Linked DNA regions of Homo sapiens: all the other regions are reported to be linked to region 2. The links are microRNA targets in miRTarBase. Many come from high-throughput screens and were not tested one by one. Region 2 holds a microRNA gene; each other region holds the end of a gene's coding sequence.
What was found. Region 2 holds the annotated microRNA hsa-miR-4295 (CAGUGCAAUGUUUUCCUU, at 2,158-2,175, shown strand). A microRNA usually pairs through its seed, bases 2 to 8, with sites in the 3' UTR of a target mRNA and lowers its output. Matches are read on the target gene's strand: a 7mer-m8 pairs with bases 2 to 8, a 7mer-A1 pairs with bases 2 to 7 and ends in A, and an 8mer does both.

Region 1 (5,101 bases), not on the chromosome of region 2:
AGCCTCAGATGGGCAGATTGTTCCCAGGGTCCAAATCGTATTGTTTTCTTTCTAGAAAGGAAGAGAGAAGGAAATTCGGGAGGGGTGTGCGGGCTGGTAGGCAGAACTTGTTGAGCTTTTCGCCTGGGTTCCCTGCTCATGACCCAAGCTTGTCCCCCTGGCGGACTTTGGAAGACAGGAGTTGGTGGCTAAACCGCTGACTTTTCTATTGCAGACAACATAGGCGGCCCGGAAGGCAAAAGGGCCCGGACGGCCTACACGCGCTACCAGACCCTGGAGCTGGAGAAGGAGTTCCACTTCAACCGTTACCTGACCCGCAGAAGGAGGATTGAAATAGCACATGCTCTTTGCCTCTCCGAGAGACAAATTAAAATCTGGTTCCAAAACCGGAGAATGAAGTGGAAAAAAGATAATAAGCTGAAAAGCATGAGCATGGCCGCGGCAGGAGGGGCCTTCCGTCCCTGAGTATCTGAGCGTTTAAAGTACTGAGCAGTATTAGCGGATCCCGCGTAGTGTCAGTACTAAGGTGACTTTCTGAAACTCCCTTGTGTTCCTTCTGTGAAGAAGCCCTGTTCTCGTTGCCCTAATTCATCTTTTAATCATGAGCCTGTTTATTGCCATTATAGCGCCTGTATAAGTAGATCTGCTTTCTGTTCATCTCTTTGTCCTGAATGGCTTTGTCTTGAAAAAAAATAGATGTTTTAACTTATTTATATGAAGCAAGCTGTGTTACTTGAAGTAACTATAACAAAAAAAGAAAAGAGAAAAAAAAACACACAAAAAGTCCCCCTTCAATCTCGTTTAGTGCCAATGTTGTGTGTTGCACTCAAGTTGTTTAACTGTGCATGTGCGTGGAAGTGTTCCTGTCTCAATAGCTCCAAGCTGTTAAAGATATTTTTATTCAAACTACCTATATTCCTTGTGTAATTAATGCTGTTGTAGAGGTGACTTGATGAGACACAACTTGTTCGACGTGTAGTGACTAGTGACTCTGTGATGAAAACTGTGACTCCAAGCGGTGTGTCCCTGCGTGCCTTTATAGGACCCTTTGCACGAACTCTGGAAGTGGCTCTTATAAGCGCAGCTTCAGTGATGTATGTTTTTGTGAACAAAGTTACAAATATTGTCCAAGTCTGGCTGTTTTAAGCAAACTGTGATCAGCTTTTTTTTTTTTTTTTTTTTTTTTGTATTTGTTTTTAAGGAAAAAATACTGACTGGAACAAAAAATAAACTTTCTATTGTAAGTTCTCTTGGTCTGGTTTGTGCCAAATAGTGAGCGGCTCTGTCTGCTTTTCTGTCTGTCTGTGCAGTCTTGGAAGCTGTTGGGTCTGAGGCTACCTGAGCAGATGACCTGTGCAGGGAGACCTCATACCAACACTGTCCCATCGCTTCCCTACCTCTGACCCATTGCAAAGTTCAGGGCAGAAGGTGGAAAAAGCTGTAGGCTGTTCCAAAGCCCCAGAACACCCTGTCCATCTCTGAGGAAACCAAGTTAACTTGCTGGGTACAAAAAAGAGAGAAAGAGCAAGAAAAAAGGAGAAAAAACCCAGGGCTTTGTTAGCCGCCCTCAGGCCACACAGATCCTGCCTCTTTCCTAAGGCTGTCCTAGGCCTCCACTTGCTGAAGACGCTGCTATGTCTGTCTGTGGACCCCAAACCCTCTGCCCTTAACCCATCCCAGCACCCCTTCCCCACTCTTCACCCGGGACCCAGTTGGCTTCTTTTGCTACAATTAATTTGCTACAAATTGAAGGTACTTACCCCATCCTAGCTCGATTGGGAAACTCCTCAGAGCAGCTAAAGCGCAACTAGAGATTTGCACATTTACCGACTGCTTACACTGATGCCGTCTTTCCTTTTAAAAGTTATAAAACAGTAAACTTTATAAGCCCCAGTTCCGGCTATATGACATTTGGGTGCCAAATGAATAGGGTTTTGTCTATGAATTAGATCGTAAAATCATCCATAGCACAGACAGATCGGCTCACTGGCTATAAAACGTCACGTGGGGCCATTAAAGTAAGTTTTATGGTTTTGGGGAGTTGACATCCAACATTATATACCACATAACATATAATCTCACTAACGCTGGACTCCATTTGACTCTTTTGCAGGCTACGTGTGCCGCCTGGCCATTCAAACTGTCAATTTTAGGTCCAGAAGTGTCCAAACCACAAGTTCTCAAAACTCTCTGAAAAATGGCTCCCTCCGAGTTAAGGTAAGCTCGCCTCCTGAGCGCTTTCAAGTTTATTTGTACTTTGGAAACTTTCTCTCTCTCTCTCTCTCTCTCTCTCTCTCTGGTTCAATAACTCAGGCTGCCTCTGAATTCGAAAAGGCAGAGCAAACTTTCCCTCTGCCCAAAAGAGCAGCGCCAGGAGCCAACTCTGCGGAGGCAGCAGAGTGAGCAGCGCCTGTGGCCGCGCCGCATCCCCAGGCCTAACTTTAATTGCAGCACAACCGCGGATGTTAATGACTTCCGCTGCTCCCGCCGGCGTGCAAAAAGATGATTTTTGTGTGCGAATGGGCCTGTGTGTGGGGACCTGGCAGGGCCGCACCCCCAGTCCCCCGCGCAATTGCTGGGCCGGCCGGGGCCAGCTCCTGGGGGTCGCGGAGCCCTGGGGTCGGGGCTGGGAGACAGTGGGGCGCCGGCCGCGGGCGCCGAGGGCCGCGCTGCGCTCAGGAGTTTGAAAGAAAGGCCGGGGCAGGGCCGAGGCGGACTCTGGCGGGATTCCTTACGGGGCTGTGGCAATATGTCTTCGCGGGCCGGGGTCATTTGGCAGGGCTGAATTGAGGCGGCGGCCTTCGGGGCCGGGTTTCAGGCTAGCTCGCGAGAGCGGGAGGGTGGCAGAGGCCGGCGAGGCTGGGGCTGCACCTCCAGGCTGGGCCCCCGGGTTGCAAGGTGGATCCTGGGCTGCTAGCGCCCACTGGACCCTGAGGACCAAGGATCCCCACCCTGGTGTGGGGGGGTGTTCAGGACCCCCTCCCCCGCACCCGGGACCAGGCCCTGAACCCTGTTTGCCTGCATGTTCTTTTTATTTCGGCGGGACTGTTCTCAGCCGCTTGTGAGTCTGAAGCAATAAACTTTATGGCCGGATTTAACTTTAGTCTTTGAATCCCCAGGCTAATTGAAAGGGGTTAAAGCGCTTTCTTTTCTTCCGCTTTGCCTTTCTTCTCCCTCTCTTCTTTCCTGTTCCTCTCCTTCTTTGTAGAATTAAAAACATCTACGCACAGGACCCTCAGAAGGCAACTTAGGCGGCCCCCTGGATAACATTAAGATTGGAGAAATTCACTCCCCCTCAACATACAGGCGAATTCTCTGTTCCAAACTGTGCTCTAAAGTTTTGGGGGAAATTGAGGTGTCTTCAGTGCCCAACTTAAAAGTCCCCAGAGCCATTAGGTTGTTTTTCCTGACACATCATAAACGGTAGTTTAGGGAAGAAATTGGTCCTTTGTCAGTAGGAGATTTCCGCCTTTCTTTTGTTAGTTGCTCTTTCTGTTTGATCCCAGGAAATTTACATAATCTATGATTTCCAGAACAGTCTCCAAAATTGCACCAATGGGTGAAGTAAGGTGAAATAAGTTTATCCTGGGCACAATTCCATATTGGCCCCAGTCACCCCTTCTGGCCCCAACCCCCCATATTCTTCAATGGCAAAACCCAAGCCCAGTGACTGGGGACTGTGGCCTGTCCTGGGATCTTTTTCTGGATGGGTACCCACAAGGGACCCAGTAGATTTCCTCCAATCCTATTTTAGGAATTAAGCCAAATTCTCCTACTGCATTCAGAAATGAAACAAAAAATAGGATCTGCTTTTCTCCTTAGGAGCTGGGCAGTTTTCAGCAAGTATTAATTGGTAAAGATACCTATTAAGTGCTTAAAGTGAAAAAATTGAAAGTATAGATTTGGAATTTCAATAAACTTATTGTGCAGAGGCCACCTACACTCAACATAAGTCCAACAGATGTCCCTAAAGTCAGAGGTCCAGAAAGCAAAACCTAGAAAGTTTTTTTGAAAAATCAAAACCCTCCCACAAGTGCTACTTCTCATGAATAGTGGCAAGGTGAAGAATCCTGAAGTCATTGTGTGTAACCTATTAAAGTAAACATTGGTATTTCAGCATTCAAGAAGATGTGTCCACATCTTAGTGGGAACAAGGATATAAACTCTACATGGGTATGGGTTCTCTTTTATAATGTTATGTGTCTGTGAGAATACTGGATTCCTTGTTTTGCTGCTCTGAATTTTGGGCTCCTTATTGGAAAATATTGCGTTATGGTTCCATTTTAGTTACTGATTTGGTGATCTTGCTTGAGTGATTTCTTGGTGATTGAAATTAGAAAAAAAAAAGAGTGACGGGGATTCTGCCAGTTTAATTTGAGTTACTTACACAGAAAATATCCACACTACTTCATGGCCATATTCCACCCTGGGGTGTGGGAATGAGCAGAAAGCCTGTTGAAGTCATATCCAGTACCACAGAACATAGAGAATCTTTCCAAGGAATGAGAAAAATTACAGGCTGTAAATATTGTCAGCTTGCTTATTTCTGTCTGTTTTAATCTTCACAAAACTTAAGTAGAATTTAAGAGAGCAGGCAAACCCACATGGCCACATGGAATTAAAATGACTTTAAAAATACATCATGCAGTCAGACCTATGTGTTACTGGAAGATTTTTTTCTTTCTTCCTATTTTCATAGGAAGCATAATAAAGAGGATGGCTGGTTTTCTGCTCATTCTGTAGATAAGTTATTTCTTTTGTGGATTCTTTTGGGTTGTTCTTGCAGAGGAACTTACTAAGAAAAAATATGTCTGTCACTGAGGGCTTTATGAAGACATCCAGCCTCAGCCGGTGGCAGAAGTGCGTGTCTGTGCTCCTCCTCAGCGGCAATGTGCGGGGGCTCGTTTGTTCCCACAAGCTGAAGAGACAATATTTCTGAACTATAAATACAACAGGAAGCTTCTGGTCACACTTACTTAGTGGTTTGTTAGGGTTTCCATGGTCTAATTTCACAACATTATGCCAAGATTCCCTTTCTCCTGCTCTTTCCCCTGCTTCATTGTTGGCGGCTCTGAGAGAGCAAGACAGAATTTCCCACCAA
Region 2 (5,103 bases):
TTGTAAAAATATACAACTTGGCCAGCCATGGTTATGTTGATCTTTTCTCCAAGTTAGTGTCCATCAGTTGGGGTAGTATTCTTCCCTAGGGGACATTTTGAACCTTTGTTGGGGCATTTTGGTTATCTCAGTGATAACTCAAGGGTAATAAACATCCTGGAATGTATTGCGTAGTCTTTTACAACACTCCCTGATCCTGCACAAACTCTCAAATGTCCTGCTGGTCATTTGTGAAGGTGCACACCCTATTTATAATTATCTGAACGTAGTTTTCCATATGAACACAAAGTATTTTTGTGTGGCTTGAACGTATGTGGAGTTTTCCAAGTATACAATAATTGTGTAAAATCAGGGTTTATTTTAAAAGAGTTCTTTACCATTGAAGGATAGACAGGATTATGCTACAGTAACAAATTAACCTAGAAATTCTGGTGGTTTAACACAACAAAGGTTTCTTTTTTATTTATGCTAAAAGTTGATCAAGCATTGACAGAGGGCTCTGCCCCACTTACTCAAGCATCCAGACTCCACCATGGGGATCGTTGCCAGCCACTGCGGGCAGGGATAGACGGGATTCACATACCAGCTCATCAATATTTTGACCCAAAGTTGAGGTACATCACTTCTGACTATAGTGTACCGGCCAGAAATAGTCATATAGTCCTACCTAACCATAAGGGGGTTAGGGAAGAGGAACAGGTGGAAAGTTGGGTGAGTACAGTGTTCATGGTAATGCGACTTGTAGTATTTGAGCTGTCATTACAGTGCTTGTGGATTGGTTTGCATATGTAGTGTCACATGCATGTTGATTGTACATGCATGTGACAGTTGTATAGGCACAAGCATGTACTTACTTAGTTGTATCTATTAGTATAGTAATGCCTGGGTATTTACAAATAGAAATACTTCTTATTTTGTTGTAAGTTATTTTCCTGTATTTATATTACAGCTAGGGCATTATATTGATTTCTTTTTTAAAAATCCTGTGTGAAATATTTGTTACAAAAAGGTGGTCTGGGCTGGGCGTGGTGGCTCATGCCAGTAATCCCAGCACTTTGGGAGGCTGAGGCGGGCAGATCACGAGGTCAGGAGTTTGAGAGCAGCCTGACCAACATGGTGAGTCCTGAGAGGAGAGGTCTGAAGGAGAGGAGAGGTCTGATGGTGATGAAAGCCACTTTTCTAGGTCTTCGGCATCATCTGGAACACATAGTGGGTCATAGAGAATTACGGGACTTACATAATAATAGTAAGAAGAAGATTAGCTCACATCCTTTGAGTACTCCGCATGTGCCAGGCACTGTGCTAAAACCCTGTAGGTTGATTCTCTGCTTTAAGCATCACCAGAAGCCTGTGAGGAAACCTCCGAATTCTCCATCTTACAGGAGAGAGCTGCTTTTTTCCTTCAAGTATAATGGAAAAGTTGTGGTCCCCAGAATTTCTGTCCTCCCTATGCTAGCACGAAGGGATAATTGATCTTCAGACATTGAAAAGAGATAGCAGGCAAAACACCGGGGCTGGAACAACACAGCAGGATACCCAGGGATCCCAAAAGGAAGTCAAAGAAGAGATTGGAGAAAAGCAGTGGTGAGGAAAAGGGCATTGCCCCCAAAAAGTAATGTCTCCCATGCAGAGAAGACTAGCATTACATAAATGTGTCACTGAGAGAGTTACCTTACCCTGACTCTGTCACCAAATTTTATTAAATGCCTCTCCTATTTCATCCTTGTTGGTGAACTTCCCAGTTCTTCTCTTATTTTATGGGCATAAGAGCTTATACTTTGCAGTTTAGTTAGTTAATTTATTTAAATAGCATTATCAAGTTGGCTCTAGACTAAAAAAAAAAAAAAGTCATGACTCACTCCAGAAAATACCATCAGTTAACAAACGGAAAAAAGGAAAAAGGATCACAGTTAACTCAGAATTATAAAACAATGGTTCTTTTAGGCTTCCTATTTTAGTGGTGTATCCAAACACCTTTTTCCCAGAGTAATAGAGCTTTCTTCCCTTTTGGTTGCAAGCATTATATGAGCAAGATTGGCCACTTTAAAAGTTTTGTTGCATCTTTACTTTCATTACTCAACCTTTATTTCTCCTCAGTCTTTATTCCATAAGAAATATGCTTCAATGGCTTATGCATTTAGAATTGACTTTGTGGAACAGTGCAATGTTTTCCTTGCCTGTGGCAAGACCACTTCGGTTCAAGGCTAAGAAACTAGACTGTTCCTACAGAGACCCTCTGGGTGACTCATCTCTTTTGAGATCCTGATTGTCCATTTTTTGGTTGGTGTTCTGGCAGCAGTGTGTGTTGCCCTGAAGGCACCCTCTCATATGGTGTTGACTACACTATGCTGTGCTATTTAATTCTTGTTTTGGATTGTGCCTCGAGTTTTAAGTCACTTGACAATACAGAAGGTTTCTTTCTCCAAAGATTATCAATATCATACCATTGCCTCTCGGTGGTTATACACACACACACAGACACACACACACATACACACACACACACACACACACACACACACACACGAATTTCATGTTTTCTTCCTTTTGAAACTAAATGTGATCTGTCTGACCTTTCTGAGGAGTCTGCTGCTTTTTCAGATTTATGTCCCTGTGACAAGGTGGTTTGGCAAGCTGTTTGTCTTAATCACTCAGCATCTCCATTAGACAAGCTGTTTAAAAATCTTCTACGTAATTATCTTTTTTGACTCTCACTCTTCCACATTCTTTTCTTTATTGTAAACTTTCTTATGACTTTTTTATATATCTGCCATGTTCTAAAAGGCATTTAAGCCTTCTTACACTGTTTTGTCTGCTTTTCATTAAGTTTGCCATCAATTTACAATCCATGCCCATTGCCTCCTTCACAATCTGAATACATAAACATGCATAATAAATAAACTCTGGGGTTGAATCCTGGACTGAGTGGCCAACATTTTTTCTGTGTCTTCCTTAACTGTTAAAATAGGCAGACAGAGGAGCATTAGAGGAGCTAATTCTAGGAGTCTCCTACGGACATTTGCCGGAGTTTTCACTGCCTTGTTGTTGCCTGTAACTGCAAAGTTCAGAAAGCTGGGGCTGGAGGTGCCTTTATTCATAATATGAGCCAGGCACTGTGCTCATTATTTGGGGGGAATAAAAGATAACACATTTCCTGCCTTCAAGCAGCTTTTACTCTGGTAAAGAGGATAATGCAGGCATGTAAATCTTGTGGAGATGAGACAGCGTGCTGAGGAATTTAAGGAGAAAGATCCCTTTGGTAAAGGCAGATGCAGAATTCATGGCAGATGTAGTGTTTTAGCAGAACCGTGAGCAGTCAGCAGGATTGTACGGATTGGAGATTGGTAGAGGCATTCCAGACAGGGAACCGCAAGGGTCAAAGCTCAGAGGTGGCCAAGTCTAGAATATATGCCAGAGAGAATTGAGAGAGAAGCCTGAAAGAGTATTTAGGCCTAAATTCTGAAAGGTTCTAAATGCTGGCTTAAACCTTGGATTTTTCTTGGTGAGCATGGCCAGAGTGGTGTTTTAGGAAGATTTTAGAAAGATCAAACAATCGAGACGTACTGATGGTTGTAGACAATGAAGACAGGGAAACCAGTTAAGAGGCTTTTGCACTGGTCTTTGTGAGAGGTTACAACAGTAGGAATGGAAAAGAAACAAGTATGAGAGATAATTCAAAGAAAGATTTGAGAAAACCCGATGACTGGTTCAAAATGGGAAGCAAAATAAAGGAAGATTCAAACTGAGTTGATATGTGTGAGTCCCAAGAGACCCACTTGATTCGCCCACATTTAGCTGATGGGAAGAGGCACATAGCAAGAAGCTGTGATTTTTATTCATGCCCACTGAATTTAAGGGATGAGTGAACTACCCAGCATGTAATAGGAAATGGGGAGTAAAACTTGGAATAGTTTTTAACAGATTAAGCATAGAAACAGAGATGATATTTAAAAACCATGAAAGTGAATGAGGATCTCAAAGGAGACTGTTTGGAGAATGTAGGAAAGAAATACAAAGTAAGAACTTGAACTGCCAATAATTATGGGTTGAGATGAGGCAGCACCTGCAAGGGAGAGAGATCCGAGGGTTGGGCTCTGAATGCTTTGCTCACAGTAGGCACTCTGCACAGATGCATTTGTGGATGAATACCTGTCAAAGTCAAGGCTGACTCTTTCACTACAAACTTTGCCATCCCATAAATCTTTATATAAGGGCACTTTGTAGACCAATAATCTTGAGCTCATCAACTCACATAGTTGACATTCAATACCAGGGCTTTATATAAAGGTATACAATTGCAATTAATATTACTTGTTATTTTTACCTATTGTAATAGCTCATTAATTTTCTCCTGCCATTGGATGGTGTGTTATGGGTGGGTATGGTGAGTATCCCATTTTGTCAAATAGATTATAAACTCCAGCCGGGTGCAGTGGCTCATGCCAGTAATACCAGCACTTTGGGAGGCCGAGGTGGATGGATCACAAGGTCAAGAGATCGAGACCATCCTGGCCAACATGGTGAAACCCCGTCTCTACTAAAAAAAATATATAAAAATTAGCTGGATGTGGTGGTGCGCACCTGTAGTCCCAGCTACTTGGGAGACTGAGGCACGAGAATTGCTTGAACCTGGGAGGCGGAGGTTGCAGTGAGCTGAGATTGCACCACTGCACTCCAGCCTGGGTGCCAGAGCAAGACTCGATCTCAAAAAAAAAAAAAAAAAACTTCAAGTGTAGAGGTAGTATCTTTTGTTCTTTGGTGTATTACTAGAGGGTGCAGTCAGTATAAATTAAATGCTAGAGATCAATTATTCTCTTCCAAAGTAAAGAGAAAATAAACAACCATAGCAAAACAAAATGAAACAACCAACAACAAAAAACAGTCATTAAGATTCATTGTCATGGATATAGATAGATCAGAGGAAACATTTCACATTTCTTATGTATCAGAAGGCCAGTCTATTCTTCTAGAACCTAGAGGCCTCTGTCAACTCATTCTATCTCAGAATAGCCTTAACCAGACAGATATATTTAACTTAAATAATGACATGAAGGCTTTTTTGAATGGTTCCAATAGAAACATTAGAAATTGTTTATTCCTAAC
Region 3 (5,096 bases), not on the chromosome of region 2:
CACTGTAGCCTCGAACTCCCGATCTCAAGCGATCCTCCCCCCTCGGCCCGGGTAATTAAAAAAATTTTTCTTAAGACAGGGTCTTGCTATGTTGCCCAGGCTGATCTCAAACACCCGGGCTCCAGTGATCCTCCCGCCTCGACCTTCCAAAGTGCTGAGGTTACAGGCGTGAGCCACTGCCCGGCCAGGTGCACCCTTTGTACAGGAAAAGGGGTAGGAAAGGCTTCGAGGTCCCTCTGAGCCCTCTGATCGCGTCCCTTTCCCACGCCAGGGCACACAGCATGGCAGAAAACCGAGAGCCCCGCGGTGCTGTGGAGGCTGAACTGGATCCAGTGGAATACACCCTTAGGAAAAGGCTTCCCAGCCGCCTGCCCCGGAGACCCAATGACATTTATGTCAACATGAAGACGGACTTTAAGGCCCAGCTGGCCCGCTGCCAGAAGCTGCTGGACGGAGGGGCCCGGGGTCAGAACGCGTGCTCTGAGATCTACATTCACGGCTTGGGCCTGGCCATCAACCGCGCCATCAACATCGCGCTGCAGCTGCAGGCGGGCAGCTTCGGGTCCTTGCAGGTGGCTGCCAATACCTCCACCGTGGAGCTTGTTGATGAGCTGGAGCCAGAGACCGACACACGGGAGCCACTGACTCGGATCCGCAACAACTCAGCCATCCACATCCGAGTCTTCAGGGTCACACCCAAGTAATTGAAAAGACACTCCTCCACTTATCCCCTCCGTGATATGGCTCTTCGCATGCTGAGTACTGGACCTCGGACCAGAGCCATGTAAGAAAAGGCCTGTTCCCTGGAAGCCCAAAGGACTCTGCATTGAGGGTGGGGGTAATTGTCTCTTGGTGGGCCCAGTTAGTGGGCCTTCCTGAGTGTGTGTATGCGGTCTGTAACTATTGCCATATAAATAAAAAATCCTGTTGCACTAGTGTCCTGCCATCCCACTGCCACTGATTCTTTCCTGTGTAAATTCTGTGTGTGCCTGAATAGGGATGGTAGGAAACGCTACAGGTATCTAGGTGAAAGGGGAACCCAAGTGTTTCTTGCCTCTATAGAGAGCATAGATTATGCTATGAGCAGTGTAACAAAACAGTACAGTGCAGAAACCCAGTCATCCCAATGTTTGTTTGTTTGTTTGTTTTTTGAGACAGAGTCTCACTCTGTCACCCAGGCTGGAGTGCAGTGGTGCAATCTTGGCTCACTGCAAGCTCCACCTCCTGAGTTCACGCCATTCTCCTGCCTCAGCCTCCTGAGTAGCTGGGACTACAGGTGCCTGCCACCACACCCTGGCTAATTTTTTTGTATTTTTAGTAGAGACAGGGTTTCAGCGTGTTAGCAGGGATGTTCTCGATCTCCTGACCTTGTGATCCACCCATCTCGGCCTCCCAAAGTGCTAGGATTACAGGCGTGAGCCACCGTGCCCAGCCCCAATGTTTGTTTTAAAGATTTTCGTCTTCTAGTTGGGTGCAGTGGCTCCAGCCTGTAGTCTGAGCTACTGGCGGAGGCTGAGGCGGAAAGAGTGCTTGAGCCTGGGAGTTTGAAGGTGCAGTGAGTTATGATCATGCCACCTGCACTCCAATCTAGATGACATACTGAGACCTAGTCTATGCAAAAAAACCACTTTTTTTTTTTTTCTGAGATGAAGTCTTGCTCTGTCACCCAGGCTGGAGTACAGTGGTGCCATCTTGGCTCACTGCAACGTTCGGCTCCTGGGTTCAAGTGATTCTCCTGCTTCATCCTCCCCAGTAGCTGGAATTACAGGTGAGTGCCACCACGCCCAGCTAATTATTTTTGTATTTTTTTAGTGGAAACACCATGTTGGCCAGGCTGTTCTCGAACTCCTGACCTCAAGTGATCTGCCCGCCTTGGCCTCCCAAATGCAAAAAATTTTTGAAAACTAGATGGGTGTAGTGGTTTGCACCTATAATCCCAGCTACCTCGTTAGCTGAGGCAGGAGGATCGCTTGAGCCCAGGAGTTCAAGGCTGCAGTGAGCTGTGATCACCGCACTACACTCCTCCAGCCTTGCTGACACAGCAAGACCGTATCTCAAAAAAAAAAAAAAAAAAAAAAAGGAAGCAAACTAAGACTTCAGGACCTTCTTAGTGTCAGGCTCCATGGTAGGGACTGACAAGTGGCTTCATTTAATTCCTGGACCTGCAGGGCCTACCTAGATGATACCCGGGCTTTCAGGTGCAGAGCCCTTCAGACCCTTTTTTTTTTTTTTTTTTTTTTTTGAGACAGCTTCACTCTGTCATCCAGGCTGGAGTGCAGTGGTGCGATCTCAGCTCACTGCAACCTCTGCCTCCTGGGTTCAAGGGATTCTTCTGCCTCAGCCTCCTGAGTAGCCGGGACTATAGGCATCCATCACCATGCCCTGCAATTTTTTGTATTTTTAGTAGAGAAGGGGTTTCACCATGTCAGCCAGGCTGGTCTCAAACTTCTGACCTGAAGCGTTCTGCCTGCCTTGGCCACCCAAAGTGCTGGGATTACAGGCATGAGCCACTGCGCCCGGCCTTCAGACCCTTCTCACTGGGCTGCTCCAGTGGCGAAGGAACCCCTCACTCCAAATAATTACTGGGCACACAGGTAATACTTTCTGTTTGGATATTTGTGGGATGACCTGATTTTTCATATTTATCAAACTAAAGTCAACTAAAGCAATGTTTATCAAAGCGGGTTGTGACCCATTTGTGGGTCACAGCTTCTTAAAAAAAGAAAAAGCCAGGCGCGGTGGCTCACGCCTGTAATCCCAGCACTTTGGGAGGCTGAGGCGGGCAGATCACGAGGTCCAGAGATCAAGACCATCCTGGCTAACATGGTGAAACCCTGTCTCTACTAAAAATACAAAAAATTAGCCAGGCGTGGTGGCACATGCCTGTAGTTCCAGCTACTCTAGAGGCTGAGGCAGGAGAATCGCTTGAACCAGGGAGGCGGAGGTTGCAGAGAGCCGAGATTGTGCCACTGCACTCCAGCCTGGGCGACAGAGCGAGTCCGTCTCAAAAAACAAAAACAACAACAAAAAAAATAAGGCTGGGTGTGGTGGCTCACGCCTATAATCCCAGCACTTTGGGAGGCCGAGGCAGGTCAGTCTCTTGAGCGCAGGAGTTCGAGACCAGCCTAGGCAACATGGCGAAATCCCATCTCTACAAAAAATATAAAAAGTTATCTGGGCATGGTGGCACAAAACTGTGGTCCCAGCTACTTGGGAGGCTGAGGTGGGAGGATGACCTGAGCCCAGGAGGGGGAGGTTGCAGTGAGCTGAGATCACGCCAGTGCACTCCAGCCTGGGCGACAGAGCAAGACCTTGTCTAAAAAAAGAAAAGAAAAAGAAAAAAGAACCCAAGTTTTAAAAAAAGTGCAACTTAAATGGTGGTGTTTTTATTGCAGATGTTTTTGTTTTTTTTGAGGCAGAGTCTCTATCTCCTAGGCTGGAGTTCAGTAGCACAATCTTGGCTCACTGCAACCTCTGCCTCCCAGGTTCAAGCGATTCTCCTGTCTCAGCCTCCTGAGTAGCTGGAATTATAGGCGTGTGCCACCACGCCTGGCTAATTTTTGTATTTTTAGTAGAGATGGGGTTTCGCCATGTTGTCCAGGCTGATTTCAAACTCCTGACCTCAGGTGATCCACCCACCTCAGCCTCCCAAAATGCCGGGATTACAGGTGTGAGCCACTAGGCCTGGCCAGCAAATTTTTCAGTTAGGCATGTGTGTATATATATATATATATATATATGTACTATAATAGGATGTACATTGTGTTTTTTACCGTTTGAGGTCATAAGAGTTTAAGAGCCTCTGATTTACAGGTTAGGAACAGAATTTCACTCTAATTCAAGGAAGGTAGTTTGGTTTGGAGGTCTGAAGATCAGTCTTCTAATTCATCAAAATCCCTTCCTCTGGCATCTGCGTATGAAATGGTCCCTATGTTCAAGGAGCTCGCCATCTAATTGGGAAGGTGGACACATAATTTTTTGTGAATGAGTAAGATGTGTGAGACATAAGAGTAGCAATGATAAGGAAATGTGGAGATGGAAAGGGCTAATAACTTCCTGGTGGGACCCAAAATGGTTTCACTCACCTTTGATCTGGGTGTTGAAGGATGTATAGGAGTTTGCCAGGCAGAAAAGAAGGGAGATGGCATATTTGGCAGAGAGATCACAGTGGGGCGGGGAGATGGGTGGATTTGGCTGGGAATGGTGGCCATGCCTGTAATCCCAGCACTTTGGAAGGCCGAAGAGAGAAAATTGCTAGAGCTCAGGAGTTTGAGACCAGCCTGGGCAATAGAGTAAGACTTTGTCTCTATCAAAAATTTAAAAATTAACTGGGCTTGGCGGTGTGCACCTGTGGTCCAGCTACTCAGGAGGCTGAGGTGGGAGGATTGCTTGAGCCCAAGAGGTTGAGGCTGCAGTAAGCCGTGACTGAGGGCTTGTGAAACAGCAAGAACCTGTCTCAAAAAACAGTGGGCAGGGAGGGGATTAATGAATAGGCAGCTACGTTCTGGGACTGGAGGGACTCGAGGTGGCTAGAAAGCAAGAGGTACTGGGAGACAAGGCTGCAGACATTTCTTTTTTTTTTTTTTTTTTTTGAGACAGAGTCTCTATCGCCAGGCTGGAGTGCAGTGGCGTGATCTTCGCTCACTGCAACCTCCGACTCCCTGGTTCAAGCGATTCTCCTGCCTCAGCCTCCCAAGTAGCTGAGTAGCTGGGATTACAGGTGCGCACCACCACACCCAGCTAATTTTTGTATTTTTAGTAAAGACGGGGTTTCACCATGTTGGCCAGGATGGTCTCGATCTCCTGACCTCGTGATCTGCCCGCCTACGGCCTCCCAAAGTGCTGGGATAACAGGCGTGAGCCACCGTACCTGGCTGGCTGCGGACATTTCTATCAGGCCACATCCTTTCCATCAGCCTGACTGCAAGGCTTCCTTGCCCGGGAGCCCCCCAGTAGCCGAGCGGGGAGCCGGCAGGAAGCTGGATGGAGCTGTGTCTCCCTGCACGTATGTGCTCCGGGCCTGAGCCCAGCAGAGGTGGTGGCAGGCAGCCTTTCCCATCTGGTTTGTTTTGGCAGTTCCCTCCTGCAGCCTATTT
Region 4 (5,103 bases), not on the chromosome of region 2:
TTTCTTAGCTCTGGAAATAGCTTCTTAAATCGGGTAGAGTGGGGGAAGGGGGGAGATTAATTTTTACTCTAATTAACTATATTACAAATCATTGAAAAAGTTGGCTAAATCAGTGTAACTTTATTTTTCTCCATGTCCTGACCATTAGGTAGTTGAATTCAGTGAATTGGACAAACCCAGAGTCCGTTTTTTACGAAAAGTATTAAGTATCCTATTAATGGAAACAGAAGTTGAAGACCTCAGTTTAATTTTCACAAGGTATGTGCCCCACCCTTTCCGACGAGACATGGAAGAGAAATGAAGAGATTGTTTTCACTTGTGTTGATTTACAAACACAAGGTTGTACTATACGTGTAGCTTAATCTTTTCGGTTTTATTTTTAAGCTGGTATGCATTAGATCTGGGGAATAGAAACTTGTCTGCTAGCAAACTAACAATGATTGTTAATAATAAAATATGTTAAGAAGTTCTTAATTGAGAATTTTATTTTTAAAAGAAACTGGTTATGTCTCACTATGCGAGATACCCAGGATTGAGATCTAGGAGAGGCCAGCTCAGCCCTGACATGTGTTTATACGATTCCTTTCCAGAGTATCTGACAACCCAAAGCTGGGGGTGTTACGTGAGGGTTTGAAGCTTTTCATCAGCCACTTCTTGCTAAAGAACGCACAGGCCCACAGAAGCGCCGACGAAGCCAACGTGCTGAGAGAGAAAGCTGACCTTGCAACGAAGTGTCTGCAAGGAAAAGCTTCCCTGAGAATGTAGTCAGGGAAGGAAGGAGGGCAGGTGGCCCTTTGACTGTAAAATGTCCTTGGTAAACCCAAAGGCTTATTCTGTTGCCTGCGTGTGAATGTTTGGTAGAGCTATATCATTGTCTGTTAATGTATTATATTTTGAGATTTTTTTTGATCTAAGGTTTTATTGTTTGTATTTCAAGCCATTTTCAAATAACTATCTTGGGGGTGAGAGGAGAAGGAGGGAGGGAAAAGGGGTCAGGCACACTGGACAGGGTTCTCTAAGCAGTGAGGCTGGTGTGTATGATTGTCTTAAAATTTTTTAATAGATATGGCCGAGCGTGATGGCTCACCCCTGTAATCCCAGCACTTTGTGAGGCCAAGGTGGGCGGATCACTTGAGGCCAGGAATTTGAAACCAGCCTGGGCAAAACCCTGTCTCTACTAAAAATATAAAAATTAGCCAGGCATGATGGCACATGCTGGTAATAGCAGCTACTGAGGTGGCTGAGGCACAAGAATTGCTTGGACCCTGGAGGTAGAGGCTGCAGTGAGCCAAGATTGTACCACTGTACTCCAGCCTGGGCTGGACAGTGAGACTTTTGACAGTGAGACTGTCAAAAAAAAAAAAAAAATTAATAGATAAAACAGGCCACTAGAGGGTGCAGTTATAAAGAAATTGATGAGGTTTTTACCTTTTTAAAATATTGGTTAGAAGTTCAAAAACCATCCCTTAAAGGTGATTGTTTTTTTGAGACAGAGTCTTGCTCTGTCACCCAGAGTGGAGTGCAGTGTCCTGTAATCTCAGCTCACTGCAACCTCTACCTCCCGGGTTCAAGCGATTCTCCTGCCTCAGCCTCTTTAGCTGGGACTACAGGCGCACGCCACCACGCCCGGCTAATTTTTGTATTTTAGTAGAGATGGGTTTCACCATGTTGGCAAGGCTGGTCTTGAACTCCTGACCTCAGGTGATACACCCATCTCGGCCTCCCAAAGTGCTGGGATTACAGGCTTGAGCCACCACGCCCAGCTTAAATGTGATTCTTGATACTGTTTTAAGTATTTAGGTTGCAATTAACTTTGGCAAAGTCAGTCGACATAAGCCCTGTGGATATGGCCTTATGTACACTGTAATGCAGACAGGTGCTTTTCATCATTCATGTAACATTCTCACACAGTTGAGGATATTCATCTCCTCACCAATTCCAGATTGTAAATGTACCATCTTAAACAACTCTGAGGTCACCAAACAGTAGTTATTTGACTGTTAATAGGTGCTACTTGCTTGCAAGGATTTGGAGATGTAAACATGAAGAAAATATAGTTACTGCCTGCAAAGAATTAACATCCGTCTAGTGGGAGAAACAAACACACCCCACTCACTAAGTATGGAAAACTGATTCTGGGAGGAAGCAGAAATGTCCCTAGATAACAGCATGTATTGCAGATACCCAAATGTTTATTGTTTTCTCAGCCCTTCAATTTTGCTTTTCTCTCTCAAATGCTACAGACTCAATTTAAATCTTACCTTTGATTGTTGAAAAAAGTCACTAAGATGTGAATACAGAATAGACATTGAGAGGTTATATATGTCCAAAACTCATCTGTCCAGCAGTCACCGTCCTCTTCAGAGTGGTCACGTTGGGCAGATGGGCACAGGTGCTGGTGATGCCTCTCCTGGGCAAAACGCCCCATTTGTGGCACTTTCAGATACTATTTATTTACTTTTTAAGAGAGAGACAGGCTCACTCTGTCACCCAGGCCAGAGTGCAGTGGCACGATCATAGTTACCGCAGCATCAAATTCCTGGACTGAAGCGGTCCTTTTGCCTCAGCCTCGCGGATAGCTAGGACCACAAGCAGTAGAGACAAGATCTCCGTATGTTATACAGGCTGGCCTCAAGTGATCCTCTTACCTTGGCCTCCCAAACACCGGGATTATAGGCGTGAGCCCCCGTGCCTGGCCTCAAATTTTATTTTAGCTCGACCCTATGGCAGTTTGTGTTTGGAAATCGTGATGTGAAGTCATCAGTATCTGTGCATATCCCTAAACTAATGGTTTAAGCTTTGAAGCATGCGCAAGCAACATGAACAACTGAATACAGAAAGTAACTGAAAGCAGCACAGAGACTGTGTCGTCCCTACAGACTTCTAACCCTGCATTCAGCAACATCATTCGACCCGAAGCCAGATTCAAACCCTATGTCTTCTAGCAGGTTCTGAATTTAGAGGACAAATAAGGTGACAGGTACTAAGAGAAGAGTGAATTAAGTGAAAATCTTCCCTTTGTTAAGGAGCTTTTTAACAAGAGTGTCTTTGCTGGGTGGTGATTGGGATGTAACAGATCAGTTCTACTGGACTTGTAGCTTGATAGTGAAATAAGGAGCTTGGGCTAAGGTATAAATCAACACACTGCTTCCTTCCTCCAGAAGGTCTTACTGTGAAGGAAAAAATGTCAGTTGAACTAAATTGTGCTTCACGCCTCGGTAGATTTGCATTCTGATGCAAGCCCCCAACCTCACGGACCAAGAGGATCCCTGGCTGCCTGTGAATGGCCCACATTTGAGTGGTGCTAACTTGATGTGAGTAGGCATTAATTATGGGTGCGGCTACTAAGATGGGAAAAACTATCACGACAGTGGCACCACCTGATTTCATGATGTACCATATGCAGTAACCCATGTTTGAGGTACAGAATTGAAGCTGATTTTTCTGCAAAAGATGAATTTCTATAAACAATCCCATTTTTATATTTTATTATTAAAACAAAAATACCTCTCTTTGCTAGAGAGTTATATGTATGACTTAAATTATTAGCTATGGTTTGCATTTAGTACATGGCAGATTGCCTGTAAGTCTGTTCATTTTAACAACATACAGGGCTGGGCACGGTGGCTCACGCCTGTAATCCCAGCACTTTGGGAGGTTGCGGGTGGATCACTTGAGGTCAGGAGTTCGAGACCAGCCTGGCCAACATGGCAAAACCCCGTCTCTATGAAAAATATAAAAATTAGCTGGGCATGGTGGCAGGCACCTGTAATCCCAGCTACTCGGGAGGCTGAGGCAGGAGAATCGCTTGAACCTGGGAGGCGGATGTTGCAGTGAGCAGAGATCGTGCCATTGCACTCCAGCCTGGGAACAAGAGTGAAACTCTCAAAAGCAGAAACAAAAACCCAACATATATGGGCTGTTAGATAGTAATTGTAATTTCGTATAAATAGTAAATGAGTACATCTTGATTAAAAGCTATGAATTCAGAATTGCTTTTAAATATATAGGGGGTTTTTTGAAATTTATTACAGTGCAATTGAAAATACACTTAAAATACTGCAGGATGCTTAGTGCTCAGTGTTATGTATGAACTTGTGGACTTTACAATGCAGGTTGAGAACTGCTAATGTATAGAATGACTAAACAGCTGTCTTTCAGGGTATCATTTTTAAAGGTATAAGGAACAAACTTTAATGTATTGAAATGCATAAATAAAATTTATTTTTTATATTTTGTTTAGAGTAACAGTGAATGTTTATTTTGAAAGACCAGCTTGGCCGGGCACGGTGGCTCACACCTATAATGCCAGCACTTTGGGAGGCCGAGGCAGGTGGATCACCTGAGGTCAGGAGTTCGAGACCAGCCTGGCCAACATGGCAAAACCCTATCTTTACTAAAAATACAAAAATTAGCCAGGCATAGTGGCAGGTGCCTGTAATCCCAGCTACTCGGGAGGCTGAGGCAGGAGAATCACTTCAACCCAGTGGGGGGAGGTTGCAGTGAGCTGAGATTGCGCCATTGCACTCCAGCCTGGGCACAAGAACAAGCCTCTGTCTCAAAAAAAAAAAAAAGCTTTGGTGGTAAACTGAGGTCTATACCTTTCCTTTACCTTTTAAAGAAGGCTACTTAGCTCTATGATTTAGGAAGAAAGATTCATTCTCTCCACCCCCAGAGAGAGAGAACGCCCAGGAGGTGGAATGTTAACCACTGGAGAACTTGGAGAGGTTTATGCGGGTGAAGTGTGTTCTTGGAACTTTTCTGTAAGTGTATAATTGTTTCAAAATAGATGTTTTGAAAGCATTCATAATTCAGAACTCATTCTATAAAGATCTAAAATATACTATTCTTTTACAAAAGTAAGCAAACATTCAAATCACCTTTGCCTCCTTAAAAAATTGCCTAGGCCTTAGCGTACATCTGCCAAGATTTACCTTAACTTTAGGGTGGGTTGGTTTCCTTCAGCTTGGTCAGGTGACCGCCTTAGCTCCCTGTCGCACTACCTGCATTGGCAGGGGAGGGTGGGAGAGCTGGAGAACGGAAGGAGGGAAGGTCCTGTCATTGACCGTGCTCAGGGGCTTCAGTATCAAGAACTGCACTGAT
Region 5 (5,086 bases), not on the chromosome of region 2:
ATACATGTGATGTGTCATATTACAGATGGGGTCACAGTGGTTATAAAGAGTTATACCCTGAAGAATTTGAAACAGACAGGTAAGGAAAATAGGCTTACTGAAAGAAACTAAGATGGTACAAAATCTGTATTATAAATTGATTTCTTAACTTTTACGAAGAATATACTTGCCATCAAAAATGTAGCTAGAGAAACAATAGGTGATTTAGTTAGGAGGTGATCCCTGTTTTCCCATTCTCTGGTTGATGTTTGGCATGTCTGTAAGCATTTTGGTTTTTATATATAGTATTCCATACAGTAACTCAGTATGGCAGCTTAGAATTTTTACCTTCATTTTAAAGATGAGGAAACAAAAACTCAATGAGAATATTAAAGTGTTAAAGTATACATTAAAGTGCTTATTTAAAATTCAGATGTTAACCTCAATTTTTTAATCTAGAATGCAAAATATTAAAATAATACGCTTTTTTTTTACATAAAAGCTTCTATTTTTTAACTTTTCTTATTAGTAGTGATCAGCAAGATATTACCAACGGGAAGAAAACATCTCCCCAGGTAAAGTCATCTACCCATGAATCCCGCAAACACAAGAAGTCAAAGAAATCCCACAAAAAAAAGCAGAAAAAAAGGTCACACAAAAAACAGAAGAAAAGCAAAAAGGAAGCCACAGATATAACAGCAGATTCCTCGAGTGAGTTCTCAGAAGAAACTGGGGCTTCTGGTACAAGGAAAGGGAAACAACCACATAAACGCAAGAAAAAATCCAGGAAAAAGTCTCTCAAAAAACCTGCTTTATTCTTAGAGGCAGAAAGTAACACTTCACATTCAGATGATTCAGCATCCAGCAGTTCTGAGGAAAGTGAGGAAAGAGACACTAAGAAAACCAAAAGGAAAAAGAGAGAGAAAAAAGCCCATACCTCTGTAGCCAACAATGAAATACAGGAGAGGACAAACAAACGCACAAATTGGAAAGTAGCTACAGATGAAAGGTCTGCTGAGAGCTCAGAGGATGACTAAATGGGAAACACTTTTGTTTTCCACATGACTGTGGATATTTACAGTTCTTACTCCTTGTGGTTTTGCCAGTGACTCTTGTTCAGCACGGGGCCTGAGGTCAGAGCTGTCTTGTGCCATCTGTATGTTCTGACAGACGTCTTGTCTTCTATTTTGGCGTTAAGCTTGATCCCCTTTTCTTGTTAAAAGGGAATCTGGTATTTTGTTATGAAGGTTTCTTGAAGAGATTATTTTTTTTTGCAATTAATTACGTTTAGTGTAGAGTGCATATACAGCAAATTAAAGGACCCAGAAAGCTGGATCCAATAGTGACCTGGGTACACCAATCGGAATATTGAATTTGGGGAAGTCAAGGGCTGGGATCAAGAGGTGGATTGGAACTAATGCCATGTAGGATGGTATGACAAGGCAACACTGTATTGCTCTCTGTTTATATAGCAGGTGTCACAACTAACTTGTCTTTAGCCTTGGTGCTTTGATCCTTCTATATTTTGACCCCACAGGTGTGGTCCGGTTTACTTAATCAGGACATGGGCCTAAGAACAAACCTTTTCCCTTCATGATAACATCCATAGACAACTTATTAGAAGGGACTAGAGTTTTTGCAAATTTCCCTGCTGGATGGGGCCTATAGCTATACTTAGTATATGCCTAAACATGGTAATTGGATAGTAAATGGTTTTCTAGTTCCATTGCTGTATATTTGCCTAAATGGACTTGTGTTCAAATTATTTCTTCAATTGTCATAGATAATCCTGTACCAAATGGGGAAGAATTAGGAAATAATCATGTTGTCTAATGGTACTCTGGATTCAGGGCAGCAACTGCCATTTAAATGTTGTCTTGTTCATTTCTAAATCTGTTCATGAAGTTTAGGTTTTCCCTGAAACTAAGTTGAATTATTTCCAAAATGAAACAGGCTTCTCAGGGACATATCCACTTCTTCCCAGTCTGCCTTTGGATTAAAGCACCAAGCAGAGACCACATTAATTCCCTTTGCTATACTGTGATCCTTAGTATGTTAATTCTTAAGAAACCAACATATCACTGAAAGAAGGCTGGCAGAACGCAAGTGCATTTTTTCACTGTGGGAAGAAAGATCAAGTGACGTATTATTTTTTCCTGGTTGTCACTTAATGGGCTGAGTAAAAAGCTTGAAAACTCAGACTTTCGGTCTTGGTTCTGCCACTCATTGGTTATGAGGAGGCCCAGAGCAGGTAAGTTCACCTTCCTGGCCTTACTTTCCTGATGTGTAATACGGAATTACTTCACAGTAGCATGACAGTATAAGACACCAGCAGTAGATACAACTATGATGACATTCCATGAGTTGGTATTTTTAGTTCTAACTGCTAAATTTGTTCTCTTTACGGGACAGATTTCTAATAAAGTGCTTGGTCTTAAAATACATGGTTGGACAGAGGTGCCCTATCCCTTAACTATGAGCAGGTGCTACCTTTTGGGATATTTATTTTAAATTTTAATACTTTGGTACTCAATTGTCAGTGTTCCATGGTGTGTATTTTTATTTTTGGGATTAGTGGGGGTCTAAAGGGAGAAGAATAGTCTCTAATTACTACCTCTTAACCTAAAGCAATTATTTTGTTCCTGGAGCAAGTTAAATCTTTGTTGGAAGGAGCTTTGGCCATATATTTTTTAGCATGCATTGTTTCTGTGCCCTGAAAGTACCTGAAAGGTTTTAAGCACAGACTCAGGAAAATGTGCCAGTAGAACAGGCCATCTCCAGGAAATTGGCTCTATTTGGGTCCTGACCTTCCCTTCCTCCCAAGTTAGCAGGCTTGTTCTTTCGCAAGGAATACACATCTTGCCTTTTTTTTTTTTTTTTTGCCATGTTTTCCTTTTCTTGGTCATGTATAAGCAATAAAGCTGTTTTTTGTTCTTCATCTTTCTTAACCCCAAATTTTCTTCTATGCCTTAGGCTTCGATGGTTCTTCCAACCCCCTTAATATGGCTTAGGGTGGTTTTTCAAAACCTACAATCCCCCATTTGCACTACTGGCCATGGAACATTTATTTCTAGTGTTCCTGCCAATCAGAGATCTCTATATTAAATTCTAAAATGGGATTAAAAGAAGAGTTGGAGAATTCACACTTATTGAGTAACTGATGTCATACAACCTGGAATTTCTGAATTCCAAATAAATAAATTTCACTCTTTGAACATTTCATCTTTTACTTTTTAGCACCAACAGACTTGATAACAGCCTGATGCTGATCTGACAATGGGTTGATAGCCTTCCCCCACTGACCCTTAAATCTGCTTAGTAACAAGTCCTTTGCTTCTGTCATTCTCCTGGGGGATGGCCTACTGCCCTCCTTTCTGTACAATCTGGGCAAACCGACTGGTGATGGCAAGAGTGGTGTCAATGAAGCGGTCTACACAGCTGGAGAGACAATTTTCAGTGCGAGAGTCTAGGCGATTCCCTGGCTTCTCCACACATTTATCCCAACATAACTCCATGAAGTGATGCACCTAAAAGGAAAGAAAAATAGTAACCATTGGGGTCTGCAGATAGGCCTAACTCTTGTTTATTAACTTCTCACTTTTTGACACCTGACAAAACCATTCTTTAAATCAACCACGGAGTCACTTTGGGCTCTTCTCTTTCTTCATTTCCTAATTAGTCACCAATATTGATCCAGATCCTCGTCCCTACAGATTGTACATTCTCAGGTAGGACTAATAACCTTTTATATTCCCCAAAGTAGCTAGCACCATTGTGAACCAACTAGGGAACCAATTAATTTTCCCAAACTATTGCACTCATTTTATTCCAAACCTATCCCCTAGACAAGGTAATTCTTCCATTAACCTTTTGGGGGTTATGGATCCACTCCCCAGAAAAATGCACATACAGGCACAGAAATTATGTGCACTGTCATTAGAATGTTCAGGGCCCAAAGATTTCTAGCCAGGGTTCTTGCTGGTCATCCGAGCACCCTCTTCCTCCCACCCAAAAGGAAAAAACCATTTTACCAAGAGCTTACTATTTGTGAGGCTGGGTACTAAGAAATCAGTTCTCTCTAAGGTCCTCAAGGATAGCTGTCATCACCTCCCATTTAAGAGGCGTGATTATGTAGTCCAAGGTCATGTAGCCAGCAAGAAGTCAGGCCGCGTTAGAACCATGTCCGAAGGGCTCCAAACCCTTGTTCTACATCCATAGTCTACAGCGACTACTTCAGAGTCCACCTTCCTCCGATAATGTTCTAGTCGTTTTCAAATACATTGTCGCATATGATCCTCACAATCCAGTGAGGCAGTGGGGTGACGGCGACACCAAAACCCACAGTGGATGAGTATCTTTTCTACGGGCACGTGGCCTGCAAGGAGCAGAGGGAGGATGAGAACCCAGATCTTTCGAATGCCAGCCCAGTCATGTCGCCGGCTAACTAGTCTCCCGTACCCTTGCGTCGCCCAAATCTTCCCTGTTTTACACCTTTTCTTTTCTCCACGCTACGCTTATATACCTGGCACCTGAGCACTACCGGTCACCAGGGACAGGAGAGCCATAACTTTGTCTTTCGTGAGGGGAATGGGATGCAGCCGGGATCGAGCACCAGTGAGCCGCCAGTGTACAGACCTCCGAGCGTGCCCAGGACCACCAAGGAAGGTGAAACTTCCTTTCCCTTCACCCTCCCCGTCCCCGCACCTGTGCAGTAAACTGCGCCTTCTGCTGCTCGGCGGCCACCAGGCGCTGCAACTCCGCTTCATCGGCTTCGCCCAGCTCCGCCATTGTTCGCCTCAGGCTCGCCACCTTCCGACAGCTGTGTTTGCGCATGCGCGACGGGTGTGCACCGCCTCTCGACTTCCGGTTCACCCAGCATTTCCTCTTCCCTGTTTTCTTTCGTCGTCGTGGGTGGGAATTGTCGCCTAAGTGGTTCCGGGTTGGTGGATGACCTTGAGCCCTCAGGAACGAGATGGCGGTTCTCTGGAGGCTGAGTGCCGTTTGCGGTGCCCTAGGAGGCCGAGGTGAGGGGTCTTCCCACCCTGAGGTGCTTAGCGTAGCCTCCAGCCAGGGAAGGGGATGGAAGTGAGGACTCATCTGCCGGGTG

Region 1: miRTarBase lists HOXA5 as a target of hsa-miR-4295. Seed matches in the 3' UTR shown: 7mer-m8 at 821-827.
Region 3: the mRNA of POP7 is a reported target of hsa-miR-4295. Seed matches in the 3' UTR shown: 8mer at 928-935.
Region 4: the mRNA of NOM1 is a reported target of hsa-miR-4295. Seed matches in the 3' UTR shown: 7mer-m8 at 3,853-3,859.
Region 5: miRTarBase lists NKAPD1 as a target of hsa-miR-4295. Seed matches in the 3' UTR shown: 8mer at 3,021-3,028.

Annotation. Positions count from the first base shown.
Region 1 is chr7:27,137,199-27,142,299 of GRCh38, reverse strand. It overlaps HOXA5 (homeobox A5), which reads left to right. Exons shown (of 2, transcript NM_019102.4): 2 at 215-1,248. The coding sequence ends at 465. It overlaps HOXA3 (homeobox A3), which reads left to right. Exons shown (of 6, transcript NM_153631.3): 2 at 2,114-2,217. It overlaps HOXA-AS3 (HOXA cluster antisense RNA 3), which reads right to left and starts at 1,936. Exons shown (of 3, transcript NR_038832.1): 1 at 1,761-1,936. RefSeq lists an enhancer at 2,212-2,790.
Region 2 is chr10:112,632,023-112,637,125 of GRCh38, forward strand. It overlaps MIR4295 (microRNA 4295), which reads left to right and starts at 2,148; the gene lies at 2,148-2,232. The region is part of intron 5 of VTI1A (vesicle transport through interaction with t-SNAREs 1A); the gene reads left to right. It overlaps LOC124902503 (a long non-coding RNA gene), which reads left to right. Exons shown (of 2, transcript XR_007062292.1): 2 at 1-5,103.
Region 3 is chr7:100,706,550-100,711,645 of GRCh38, forward strand. POP7 (POP7 ribonuclease P/MRP subunit) reads left to right here. Exons shown (of 2, transcript NM_005837.3): 2 at 272-937. The coding sequence starts at 282. The coding sequence ends at 704. Among named protein-coding and RNA genes, the nearest start is that of POP7, 3.0 kb to the left of the region's middle.
Region 4 is chr7:156,968,939-156,974,041 of GRCh38, forward strand. NOM1 (nucleolar protein with MIF4G domain 1) reads left to right here. Exons shown (of 11, transcript NM_138400.2): 10 at 149-258; 11 at 591-4,238. The coding sequence ends at 765. Among named protein-coding and RNA genes, the nearest start is that of NOM1, 22 kb to the left of the region's middle.
Region 5 is chr11:112,081,957-112,087,042 of GRCh38, forward strand. NKAPD1 (NKAP domain containing 1) reads left to right here. Exons shown (of 6, transcript NM_018195.4): 5 at 26-79; 6 at 509-3,194. The coding sequence ends at 1,016. TIMM8B (translocase of inner mitochondrial membrane 8 homolog B) reads right to left here and starts at 4,800. Exons shown (of 2, transcript NM_012459.4): 1 at 4,684-4,800; 2 at 2,844-3,506. The coding sequence starts at 4,767. The coding sequence ends at 3,339. It overlaps SDHD (succinate dehydrogenase complex subunit D), which reads left to right and starts at 4,917. Exons shown (of 4, transcript NM_003002.4): 1 at 4,917-5,003. The coding sequence starts at 4,952. RefSeq lists enhancers at 4,355-5,086, 4,918-5,086.